2 separate regions of the Homo sapiens genome follow, and region 2 is linked to region 1. The links come from fine-mapping of genetic effects on gene expression. A gene starts in region 1. The other region holds a variant in brackets. All regions are shown on one strand. Distances are between the middles of the regions.

Region 1 (5,364 bases):
AAGCAGTGGGGAGTTTTTCTGAGGTCCGCCCCCCACTGGTACCTGTTGATGATGTTGGGCAGGAAGCAGAAGAAGAACTTCTCAGGGATTGGGATGAAGGGCAGCAGCCCCAGGTAGTAGGAAAGCAGCACCCAGAATCCTCGGCTTATTGTGAAGGACAGGGGCATCTCGGGGTTCTGGGGAGGCAAGGAGAGGCATGAGAATCTGTCTGCTCTGGGGAAGCAGAGAGGAGGCATGAGCTGCAGGGGAGCCGTGGTGGGCATTCCAGAGGCCCTACTACCTGCAGGATCCAAGTCACATCTTGGGGCTGGGTGTGGTGGCTCACGCCTGTAACCTCAGCAGTTTGGGAGGCTGAGGCAGGTGGATCACCTGAGATCAGGAGTTCAAGACCAGCCTGGCTAACATGGTAAAACCCCATCTCTACTAAAAATACAAAAATTAGCTGGGCGTGGTGGCGTGCACCTGTAATCCCAGCTACTCGGGAGGCTGAAGCATGAGAATCGCTTGAACCCAGGAGGCAGAGGTTGCAGTGAGCCGAGGTCGCACCACCGCACTCCAGCCTGGGCGACAGAGAGAGACTGTGTTTCAAAAAAGAAAAAAAACAAAAGTCACATCTTGGCTCTGTGTTCGAGGCCTGAGTTCACACCCTTTTCATTGCCACCGCCACGCCACTGGGAACTCTCCCAGACCCCTCTAGCTCGGGTCCCCATGCTGGGTGGGCTCCAGCTCTGGGGAGGAGGGGCCCCTGGAGGAGGAAGAGGACGGGGGAGGGGTGGGGGGACTCACGGCAGCCTTGCATTTCTTCATGACCGAGCTCTTCTCCGAGGCCCAGATGGTGATTTCATTACGGTCATAGCGTCTCACCAAGCCTGCTATCTGGGAGGAGGAGAAGGAGGTGAAGGGAGAGCCAGGCCTCTCTCACGCCCCCGGTGGCCGCCCTAGCCCTGCCTGCAGCACCACCTCACGGATGAGCTCTTCGTTCTTCCCTTTGATCTCTACGCTCATGGGTGTCCTTGGAAACCTCTGGAACAGGTCCTCCAGACGAACCATGCGCCGGTCTGACCCGTGAGCAAAGTGGCCTGGGGGTGGTGTGGGAAAAGGGGTCAGAGGGAAGCCAAGGCGGAGGTCCAAGGAAGGCAGGCATGGCCCAGGCAGGGCTCGAAGCCCTTGCTCTCACCTGGAGAGAAGTAAACCTCCAGCTTCTCCTTGTAGAGGGGCAGGTCCTGGGGAGGACAGGAAGGATGTCACTAGAGGCCCGCATTGGGCATGGTGACTCTCAGGGTGGGGGTTGGGGTGTCAGGGCAGGGCCCACCTCGAAGTCCAGGCTGCCCACATCCCTGTTTAGGCCCGACTGGCGGCACAGGTTCTCATCATGTGACACCACCACCACTCTGTCCCGTGTCAGCTGACAGTCGAGCTCCAGGAGGTCCGAGCGCTGGGCCATGGAGCTGTGGGGGTGAAGGTCAGCGGGGGGCAGGGGCAGGGGACTGGGATGAGGGGCATGGTGGCTGGGAGGTGGCCGGGAATGTGAGAGCGGAGTTCGTGGCGGGATGTGCAGGCCACCTCCAGGGGGCGCCAGTCACCCAGCTAGGAAGTGAATGGCGTCCCTTGCTGTGATGCAGTCCACGACCTGCACACCCTCACATGGCAGCCTGGGCAGGGGCAGATACACTCACTTCTCCATGGCCTCCATGGTGTTCTCCAGCAGCTCTCCAGATCCTGTGGGGGGCACTGGAGTGGGCCTCTGGGGCTTGGGGTCTAGGGGCCTGGCCCAACCTCATCACCCACATTCCCTCTCTGGGCTCCATCCTCCCTCTGGCCTCACCTCCCCAGCCAGCCCAGGCTGCGCCAGCATCTTCTTCCTCGTCCACACCCTGCCCTGCCACTTCGCTCTCCTTCTCTCTTGGTCCCTGCCCCGTTTCTAGCATGCCCCCTTGGACCTACCCCTCTGTGCTGTCCACTTTGGCACCTGTTCTCACCCCTACCCGGCTCACCTCCTCGGTGGGCCCCCAGGCGGATGCGGAAGGTGGGAGCCCTGGGCGTGTGCAGCAGATGAGGCCGGCGCAGGAAGAAGATGGAGAGCATGGCATAGCTGCCCAGGGCAGGGAGGGCATAGTACAGCAAAAGGCTCATGACCGTACTCCCACAGAAGCTCCTGCAGCCACACGCTCAGCCGTCCGCGGGACTGTGCTGCCTGCCTAGCCAGTGTGGGCCGGCTCTACTACTGGCCACTGCCACGCCCCTGGGACCTGCTGAGCCTGCCGCTGGGCTGGCTTGGAGCCAGGCTGCAGGGTTCGGCTGAAGCTGGGGTAGTGTCAGGAGGTGAGGCAAGTAGCCCTGGCTCTCATATCCCCAGGCCCTTCCCAGCCCCCAGCAGCCCCGTCCTGGGCTACATGAGGGGAGTAAAAACCACCCAGGACTGTCAGGACCTCTCCCTCTCACTGGTACTTGTAGCCAGCGCATCCAACATGCCTACCCCTTGCCATTTCAGAGGATCCAGGGGTGTGTAGGGTGCTCCTGAGTCACCCCGAATCACCCCCAGCCAGTTAGACAGGAAGCCATTAGCGAGAGGACAGGACAGTGACTAAGGGGAAAACTGACCCCCTTCTTTCTAGGAGTCTGGAGCTCTCCAGAGCCCCGTCCCCAGCCCTGGGCAGCTGGGAGTGAAGGGCACCAGGCCCCTGAAAGCCCAAGTCAAGTCTGTCCTCAGAGCCGCACGGGGCAGGGCGGGGGCGTCGCGAACACAGACAGAGCCAGGGTCAGCCATAGACACATCTCTATATTTATATATTAGACGGGTCAGGGAGGTGGCAGGGGCGCCGGGCTCTCCACGCCCCCCAGCTCCACTTCTGCTCACCACACACAGAAGCAGCGAGGGCACGCGAAGTGACAGCTTTGACAGGGAGGGGATTCGGCCCGGCCTGGCTCCTCAGGGATGCTAGCCCTTGAGACTAAGGAATGTTCCTTCAGGGAAACTAGGGTGGGGTTTGAATGAGATGAGGGGGGCAGGCATGGCCCTGAGTCCCTACTCAGCGCCCCCCACCCTCCACCTCTGCCCTTCAGCAGGTTGGGGCAGCCAGAACCCTTCCATTCCAGAACTGCCAGAGACTGGGACGCTGGGGAAGGTAAGGGCGCAGCAGCAGCAGCGGGAGATTGAACTGGGGCCACCTGAGGTCCCGAGGCCCCGTGGGGAGGGCGGGTGGGGAGGAGAAGGCCTTGGCCTGCCTGAAGCTGGAGGCCTCAGCAAAGGAGAGAGGTGGCCAGGCCCATGCTCCACCCCGGCCTGGGCTGCCAAGGTCCGGGCTGGGCACAGTGTCCATTTTCTAACAGTCTGGCGGGAGAGGGGCAGGCAGGAGGCAGGTCCTAAAGAGAGAAGCAGGCAGAAGAGGAGTCGTTAGCACCCCCCGGGCAGACCCACTGGAGCCCTGACCTCAACATCTCTCATTTCACCCTCACAGCTGGATAGGCTGGGTCTCAGTTTCCTTATCTGTAAATGGAGATAATAATAGTACCTAGCTTGAGGTACTGCTGTAAGATTAAAGGAATTAATACATGTAAACCTCTTAGAACAATGCTTAGGGCTTTATGCTTTCATTATTAGAACTGTCTCGGCCGGGCACAGTGGCTCACGCCTATAATCCCAGCACTTTGAGAAGCTGAGGTGGTGGATCGCTTGAGCCCAGGAGTTTGAGACTGGCCTGGGCAACATAGCAAGACCCCAGCTCCACAAAAAAAAAAAAAAAAAATTAGCCGGTTGCAATGGCTCGTCCAGCTAGCTGGGAGGATCCCTTGCACCCAGGAGTTTTGAGGCTGCAGTGAGCTATGATTGCACCACTGCATTCCAGCCTGGGTGACAGAGCGAGACACTGTCTCAAAAAAACAAAACCAAAAAAAAAGATAAATAGATTGACTCCGGAAACTGAGGCGCCGAGAGGTGAGGTGCCTTGCCCAATATCACACAGCACTTACTAAGTGGCACAGCTGGAGTTTGAGCCCAGGTGCGCATGCCTTCTTTCTATCAGGCCACACCTGGCTGAAGACAGGAAGAGACCGGAGGAGGCAAGGAGGCAGCGTGGGTGGGGGCAGGCCAGTGGGGTCCCCACAGCTATGTGAACTGCTGATCTGGCAGCAGGTGTGAGGAGGCCTGGCAATCTGGGTCAGGCTGGGCGCTGCTGGGCCCCTCCCAAAGCAATCATGGCCCCACCTGCTTCTGCCACACCCAGAGCTGAAGCTTGGCTCAGGTCCTCACCTGGGTGACAGAGGCCCTCAGTGACCTCTTGCCTCTTTGCCAGTTCTGTTCCTAGAAGGAGATTAGAATGGCTTGTGGGGCTGGAGGATGCAAGGTGTTGACAGGCAGAGACATTTGGGGCTGGAGGACTCGGTGGGCCACCAGTCTGGGCAGCCTTGGGCATTTTTTTTTTTTTTTTTGAGATGGAGTCTTGCTCTGTAGTCCAGGCTGGAGTGCAGTGGTGCGATCTCGGCTCACTGCAACCTCTGCCTCCTGGGTTCAAGCAATTCTCCTGCCTCAGCCTCCTGAGTAGCTGGGATTATAGGCATGTGCCACCACACCCAGCTCATTTTTGTATTCTTTACAGTAGAGACCGGGTTTCACCATGTTGGCCAGGCTGGTCTCAACTCTTGACCTTGTGATCCACCCACCTCGGCCTCCCAAAGTGCTGGGATTACAGGCATGAGCCACTGTGCCCAGCCCTTTTTTTTTTTTTTTTGAGAGAGTCTCACTGTTGCCCAGGCTGGAGTACAGTGGTGCAACCTCCGCCTCCCAGGTTCAAGCAGTCCTCCCACCACAGCCTCCTGAGTAGCTGGGACTAGAAGCGCATGCCTACGTGCCCGGCTAATTTTTGTATTTTTAGTAGAGACAGGGTTTCACCACGTTGGCCAGGCAGGCTGGTCTCGGACTCCTGACCTCAGGTGATCCACTTGCCTCAGCCTCCCAAAGTGCTGGGATTACCAGAGTGACCCACTGTGCCCGGCTAATTTTTGTATTTTTAGTATAGATGGGATTTCACCATGCAGGCCAGGCTGGTCTCAAACTCCTGACCCTCAGGTGATCCACTCCTCTCAGTCTCAGTCTCCCAAAGTGCTGGGATTCCAGGCATGAGCCACCACACCCAGCCCCCTGGGCACTTCTGTTGTCACCAGACACATTGACCATGGGTGTGGGGTAAGCTTGCTGCTGTATGGAGGCATGTACAGATAGATATAGATATAGATATACAGATATAGATATTTAGTATCAGGGTGTCCATGTGTGGGCCATGGAGACACTCACCAGGCCCCAGGGTGCAGAGATGTCTGTCTGGGCTAGGGGGCCTCCAGCACTCCGGGCTGGAAGCGTGCTGTCTC
Region 2 (5,364 bases), 140 kb before region 1:
GGTGAGGGGTGCTTGGCACTGTTGCTGGCAGAAGGGAGAAAAGGGCCGGCTTTGAGCAACCTGCGAGCTGCTGAGGGCTGAGCAGAGAGCAATCACTCAGTCTCCCAGGCTATTCTGAGCCCTCTGCACCCTGGGGGCCCACTGGAGAGTCAGGCTCCCTCCTTGCCCTCCAGCTTCCAGTTGGGCTGAGACAAAATTAACAACACAACAGGAAACAATGCATGACAGAATAAATTACATGCTAAAATTGTTAGGTGCTTTTGAGTAGCTAGAACTCTGCCCCAGGAGTCCAGCTCTGCTGAAGGCTCCTTTGTGCCTAAATTCTGACAAGTGCTTAGGCTGGAGCCTGTCTTGGAATCTCCTTGAGGGTTTTGGTTCTGGTATCCTGCAGGAACTTTCTCCGGGTGTTTGGTTGGGTGCCCTAGGTGCTCTTCCCAATGGCTGGAGTGGTCAGGACAGGCTTCCTGCAAGAGGGGAGCTGAGCTTGGGGTGACAGCTGAGAGAGTAATGGATACAGGCCTAACCGGGGAGCCGAAGGTCCTGTTCTCTGACCTTGGAGAAGTCCTTTTTCTTCTCTGTGCCTCAGTGACCTCACCTAGGAAATGGTGATCATGATTCTGCCCTGCCTGTTTCGAAGGGCTGCTCTGAAATCATAGTGATGGAGGACCAGCTTTGGACAAGGCACTTAACCTTGCTGAGCCTGTTTCTTTATCTGTAAGATAGGGGAAATCATAGTACTTGCTTCATAAGGTTGTAGTGAGGACTGAATAGAGATAATGCACGTAAGGTACTCAGTAAATGTTATTTGTACCCTGCAAATGTCCTGTACCTGTGTGTGATGCTTATGCAGTTGGACAGGACAAGTAAGGTGGCCCAGAGCACAGAGAGGCCCTCATAGCCAGATGCCATTTATATCCCTATTCTTCCCATTCTAGATCTCCCCCTGACTTTTTTGAGAGTGACTTTGCGGGCTCCTCTGGGCCAGTACCCACTTCTAACAATGGACGGATTTCCACCGCCTCCGGCCTGGCCATTTCCTGTTCTCTTCCAGGGTGTGAGAGGTTGAGGGAGGAGGGGGCCTCAGCGCCAAGGGGAACAGAAAGGTGCCTGGAAACAGTTGGGGTATAGGACTTATGGGACAGGACACTTGGGGCTCTGGAGTGCTGGCTGGGAAGCAGAATGTTTTATCCTTGAGGGGAGATACAGGGGCTATAGGGAAATGAGAACTTGTTGAGCACTGAAGGGGGTGGTGAGGATACTTAGCTTCCCAGAATCTTCCTAGCAGTTTTAGGGACTCCAGGGACCCAGCCCGCGTGATCTGGTTGCCAGGGCAACTTCATTTTTTGGAGCTTTGATGTTGTTCCTAATCTCCCCCTCCCCTTCCTCAGCAGTGCCTCCTCCTCATCAGGGAATGAGGGGAGGAGATGGCAGAAACTTGATGGGTCCCTTCCTCTCCCTGAAGGCTCAATCCTTGATCTCTAAGGGTCCCATTTCCATTCCTCAGGCCAGGCCCCACTCTCAGGGCCCCCAGGGGCCACCATGCCAGCTGGGGGCCGGGCCGGGAGCCTGAAGGACCCAGATGTGGCTGAGCTCTTCTTCAAGGATGACCCAGAAAAGCTCTTCTCTGACCTCCGGGAAATTGGCCATGGCAGCTTTGGAGCCGTATACTTTGTGAGTTGGGTCTTGGGAGGGTGTAATAGGGATGGGGACTCTTCCTATCCCTGTGGACTTCCCAACAGCCCTTGCACACTACTCCATCACACTGGTCTTTCCTGCCTTCTCTTGCTGGGCCAGCAAGTCTTCCCATGCCCGGCTCTCAATGGGGCCTTCAACACCTTCTGGTCTGGTCCTCTAGGCCCGGGATGTCCGGAATAGTGAGGTGGTGGCCATCAAGAAGATGTCCTACAGTGGGAAGCAGTCCAATGAGGTGGGCCAGGTGCAATACAGCCAGGTTGGGGACAGGGGACTCCTGTCTCAAGATGCAAGCTGGGTAACCTCTGCCTACCCTGACCCCCTAGAAATGGCAAGACATCATCAAGGAGGTGCGGTTCTTACAGAAGCTCCGGCATCCCAACACCATTCAGTACCGGGGCTGTTACCTGAGGGAGCACACGGCTTGGGTGAGCTGGTGCCAGATTCTGGCCTGATCTTTACTCCTATTCATGCCCGTCCTTATCGTAGTCCAGTCTCTTAGGTGGTCCCTGTTCGTGGTGCTGTTGTGGGATCTTGGGAAGGAGGAAGTCTCTTTTGACCGCTTTAGTCCTCAGACATACCCACTGAGCAAAAGCCTGGCTCAGTGACACAGGCTGTTAGCAGGTGGGACAGGTCACTGTGGGCTGGAGAAGGTGGAGATTGAATGGGAGTTTGAAGGGATTCAGATGGGCAGTGGTGAATGTCTTGGGCCCAGACTCTAGAAACTCTCCCACCACCCCCTCATTGTCTCCAGTTGCGCTTCCTCCCTGTCATCACCCC[G/A]GGGACATAGCTTGAGTACAGGACAGTCAAGGAAGCTCTGTTTTGAGTCCCTGCCCAGGAGACTCTGATCTCTGACCCTTGTCTCTTCCTTAGCTGGTAATGGAGTATTGCCTGGGCTCAGCTTCTGACCTTCTAGAAGGTAAGTGACTGATAGGCCAATAAGTGGAGAAGGGAGAAGAGCAGGGGAGCCATAGGGAAGGGTTAAGGGGAGTTTATTCCAGTCCCACCCTTGCGCTCCCTCGGGTTGATGTTCTTCCTCACTCTCCAGTGCACAAGAAACCCCTTCAGGAGGTAGAGATCGCAGCTGTGACCCACGGGGCGCTTCAGGGCCTGGCATATCTGCACTCCCACAACATGATCCATAGGTACAAGCAGCACCGGCAGTGCCTGGGAGGGGAGTGCTATCTGCACCACCTGTCACTTAGCTGGGCTGCCCCTGCCTAGCTTTCTTGAGACACATGTCTCATCCCTGTACTTTGCCTCTGGCAGGGATGTGAAGGCTGGAAACATCCTGCTGTCAGAGCCAGGGTTAGTGAAGCTAGGGGACTTTGGTTCTGCGTCCATCATGGCACCTGCCAACTCCTTCGTGGGCACCCCATACTGGTGAGTGAGTGAGTGGTGGTGAGTGGAGAGACCTCCCAGGGATGTTGGGAGTAGGAGTGACAGGGTCTCGGCGGGTGATTTGCCTCTCTCTCCTGACCATTCTCCTAGGATGGCACCCGAGGTGATCCTGGCCATGGATGAGGGGCAGTACGATGGCAAAGTGGACGTCTGGTCCTTGGGGATAACCTGCATCGAGCTGGGTAAGAACATCCTCCCTGTTCCCTCATCATCTTTTCCATTCTTTCCTGTTAGTTCCCAGACTCCGGACTACCCCCTTCTCCTAGGGATGGGATCCCAGGCCTCCAAGTTCCTGTCCGTTGTGACTCTACCCTGGAGCCCAATACAGGCAGCTGGCAAATTCTGCCAGCTCTTAGGCCTAGAGATTTTGTAGCATTCATCTCTTCCTGTCCACTACCCTGGTTCTGAATCTTTTCTTAGTGCCCACCATGTGCTGTGCCATGGACTGTGATTCTGGAGGGATAGCAGTGAATGAAAATCCTGCCCTCATGGAACTTACATTTGATTTAGGGAAACCAGGCAGGCATGTTTTCTTTCAATGTGATGAACGCTGTGTGGAGAAGTTACAGGAGCGGTTCAAATGTAAAACAGGGGACTTGACCTAGTTTAGGGGCTGAAGAAGGCCTCCTTGTAGGAGAATATTGAAGCCAACCTGCAAGATAAATAATAGCTGTTTGCAGAATGTAGGGAAGAGCTTTCCAGGCAGAGAGAACAGCATGTGAGAGGCCTAGAGGTAAGTGCAGGCCTGGGGAACTGGGACTAGCTTCAGTTATTTGGAACCTAGCATGTAATGCAGAGAATATTGAAGGATAAGGCCAGAGAGTTAGGTCCAAGTGAGTTCCTAAGGCCTTGAAGCCATGCCAAGGTTCTCATCTCTGTCAGCCAGCACTATTGAAACAATTCTTTAATGAGGTAGGTAACCTTTATAAGGCTTCCAACACAATGCCAGGCACAAAACAGTTGCCTAAGAGTTGCTGTTAGTTTCTCTTATCAACAGCCTCCTGCAGTGATCTCTCCAGTCTCTTCTCCCTTCCAGTCTGTCTTAAGTACTGATGCCAGAGAGGTCTGCCTAAGCTCAGTGCTGTCATTTCACTCCCTGTTTGGAGCCATGAGTGGCCCCCTGTTGCCTTCAAGACTGAAGCCATCCCCATCCTTCCTCCCACCAACCTAGAGGCTTTGCTTCGTAAATGCTGGCCCTTTCCTTCATGGGCTCCACCCTCTGAGTGTGTCATGAACTCTTCCACTTCCTTGCCTTGGTTCGTATTGGGTCCTCTGCCCGAGGTCAGAGATTTGGACGAGCCCTTCTCCTCCATCTTCACAGTCTCCATTTACCATTAGATGCCAGGCCCAGACAGTTGATGAAAAATGTAAGAAACGGACCCAAGTATAAGAAAAAGCTAGATCTGTCCATTTTATTTCTAGTTTTTGGAAGAGATGTGGATACAGAGAAATATTACTCTACTATTGAAAAAAATATATATCAGTCTGATTATAAATGTCAACTCATACTAAGTCAATATCAGGGAAGCAGTGTGGAGAAGGATGTGGCAAACTGGAGATTGCTGTTTCCATAGAAAGAGGGCAGCTAATGCTTATCTCCAGACCATTGTTATGCAGTAATGTAGACTCCATTTCACCAGATTTAATTCTTAAGGAGAAACTGGAAACTTGTATTATTATTTGATTATTACTTTTGGCAGTTAATTTTAAAAATCACCGTTTAGGCCAAAACAACATGACATTTGTCTGGGCTACAAGGGACTCTTAGCGACTCTTAGCTTGCACTTACCTTTCTAATCTCAGGGCTTTTTACAAAGCCCTTCTCTGAATTCCCTGAAGATATGCTAGCTTGAAGGCTCACTGCATACTCTCAACTTCCCAGCCACTTCCCTGTTTCCCTCTTATACCAGTTAATACTTTGATGTTATTTTTTCAGTCCTATTTAATCTTTTAGACTGGAGGTTCCTTGAGGGTGGGGCCTAATTCTTGTTTTTATCTTCCCCATAGCAATTATCAAGTTATCTGCTCCCTTTGGCACCTAAGAAATATTAGTTGGGGTGATAACTGAATGGCTGTCCTTCTGCCTTCGTTACTGCTTTTGTGGATGTTATTTTCTTTGACCCCTATTCCACCCGTGTGCAGTGGAGAGGATGGGTGTTGTATTTTACAGAGGAAGGAATTAACTGAGACGCAACAGGATGATGGGAACTTCTCAAGGTCATGTGGCAAGGAAGTCAAGGAATTGGGGTTTGAACCCAAGTCGTCTCAGTT

What was found. PIP is the estimated chance that this variant, and not a neighbour inherited with it, causes the effect. A credible set is the group of variants that fine-mapping cannot tell apart.
Region 2: its variant is the best candidate, but not a certain one, in a credible set for the expression of GDPD3 in whole blood (TOPMed, PIP 0.77).

Annotation. Positions count from the first base shown.
Region 1 is chr16:30,111,346-30,116,709 of GRCh38, forward strand. GDPD3 (glycerophosphodiester phosphodiesterase domain containing 3) reads right to left here and starts at 2,192. Exons shown (of 10, transcript NM_024307.3): 1 at 1,995-2,192; 2 at 1,677-1,719; 3 at 1,313-1,448; 4 at 1,178-1,223; 5 at 961-1,079; 6 at 787-876; 7 at 43-176. The coding sequence starts at 2,133. MAPK3 (mitogen-activated protein kinase 3) reads right to left here. Exons shown (of 9, transcript NM_002746.3): 8 at 5,291-5,364; 9 at 2,760-3,363. The coding sequence ends at 5,323. RefSeq lists a silencer at 2,163-2,457.
Region 2 is chr16:29,976,234-29,981,597 of GRCh38, forward strand. TAOK2 (TAO kinase 2) reads left to right here. Exons shown (of 16, transcript NM_016151.4): 2 at 1,505-1,671; 3 at 1,856-1,927; 4 at 2,019-2,120; 5 at 2,566-2,611; 6 at 2,741-2,837; 7 at 2,962-3,075; 8 at 3,184-3,275. The coding sequence starts at 1,540. Among named protein-coding and RNA genes, the nearest start is that of TAOK2, 5.0 kb to the left of the region's middle. RefSeq lists enhancers at 1-28, 29-528. The variant G/A (reference allele first, on the strand shown) is at 2,473.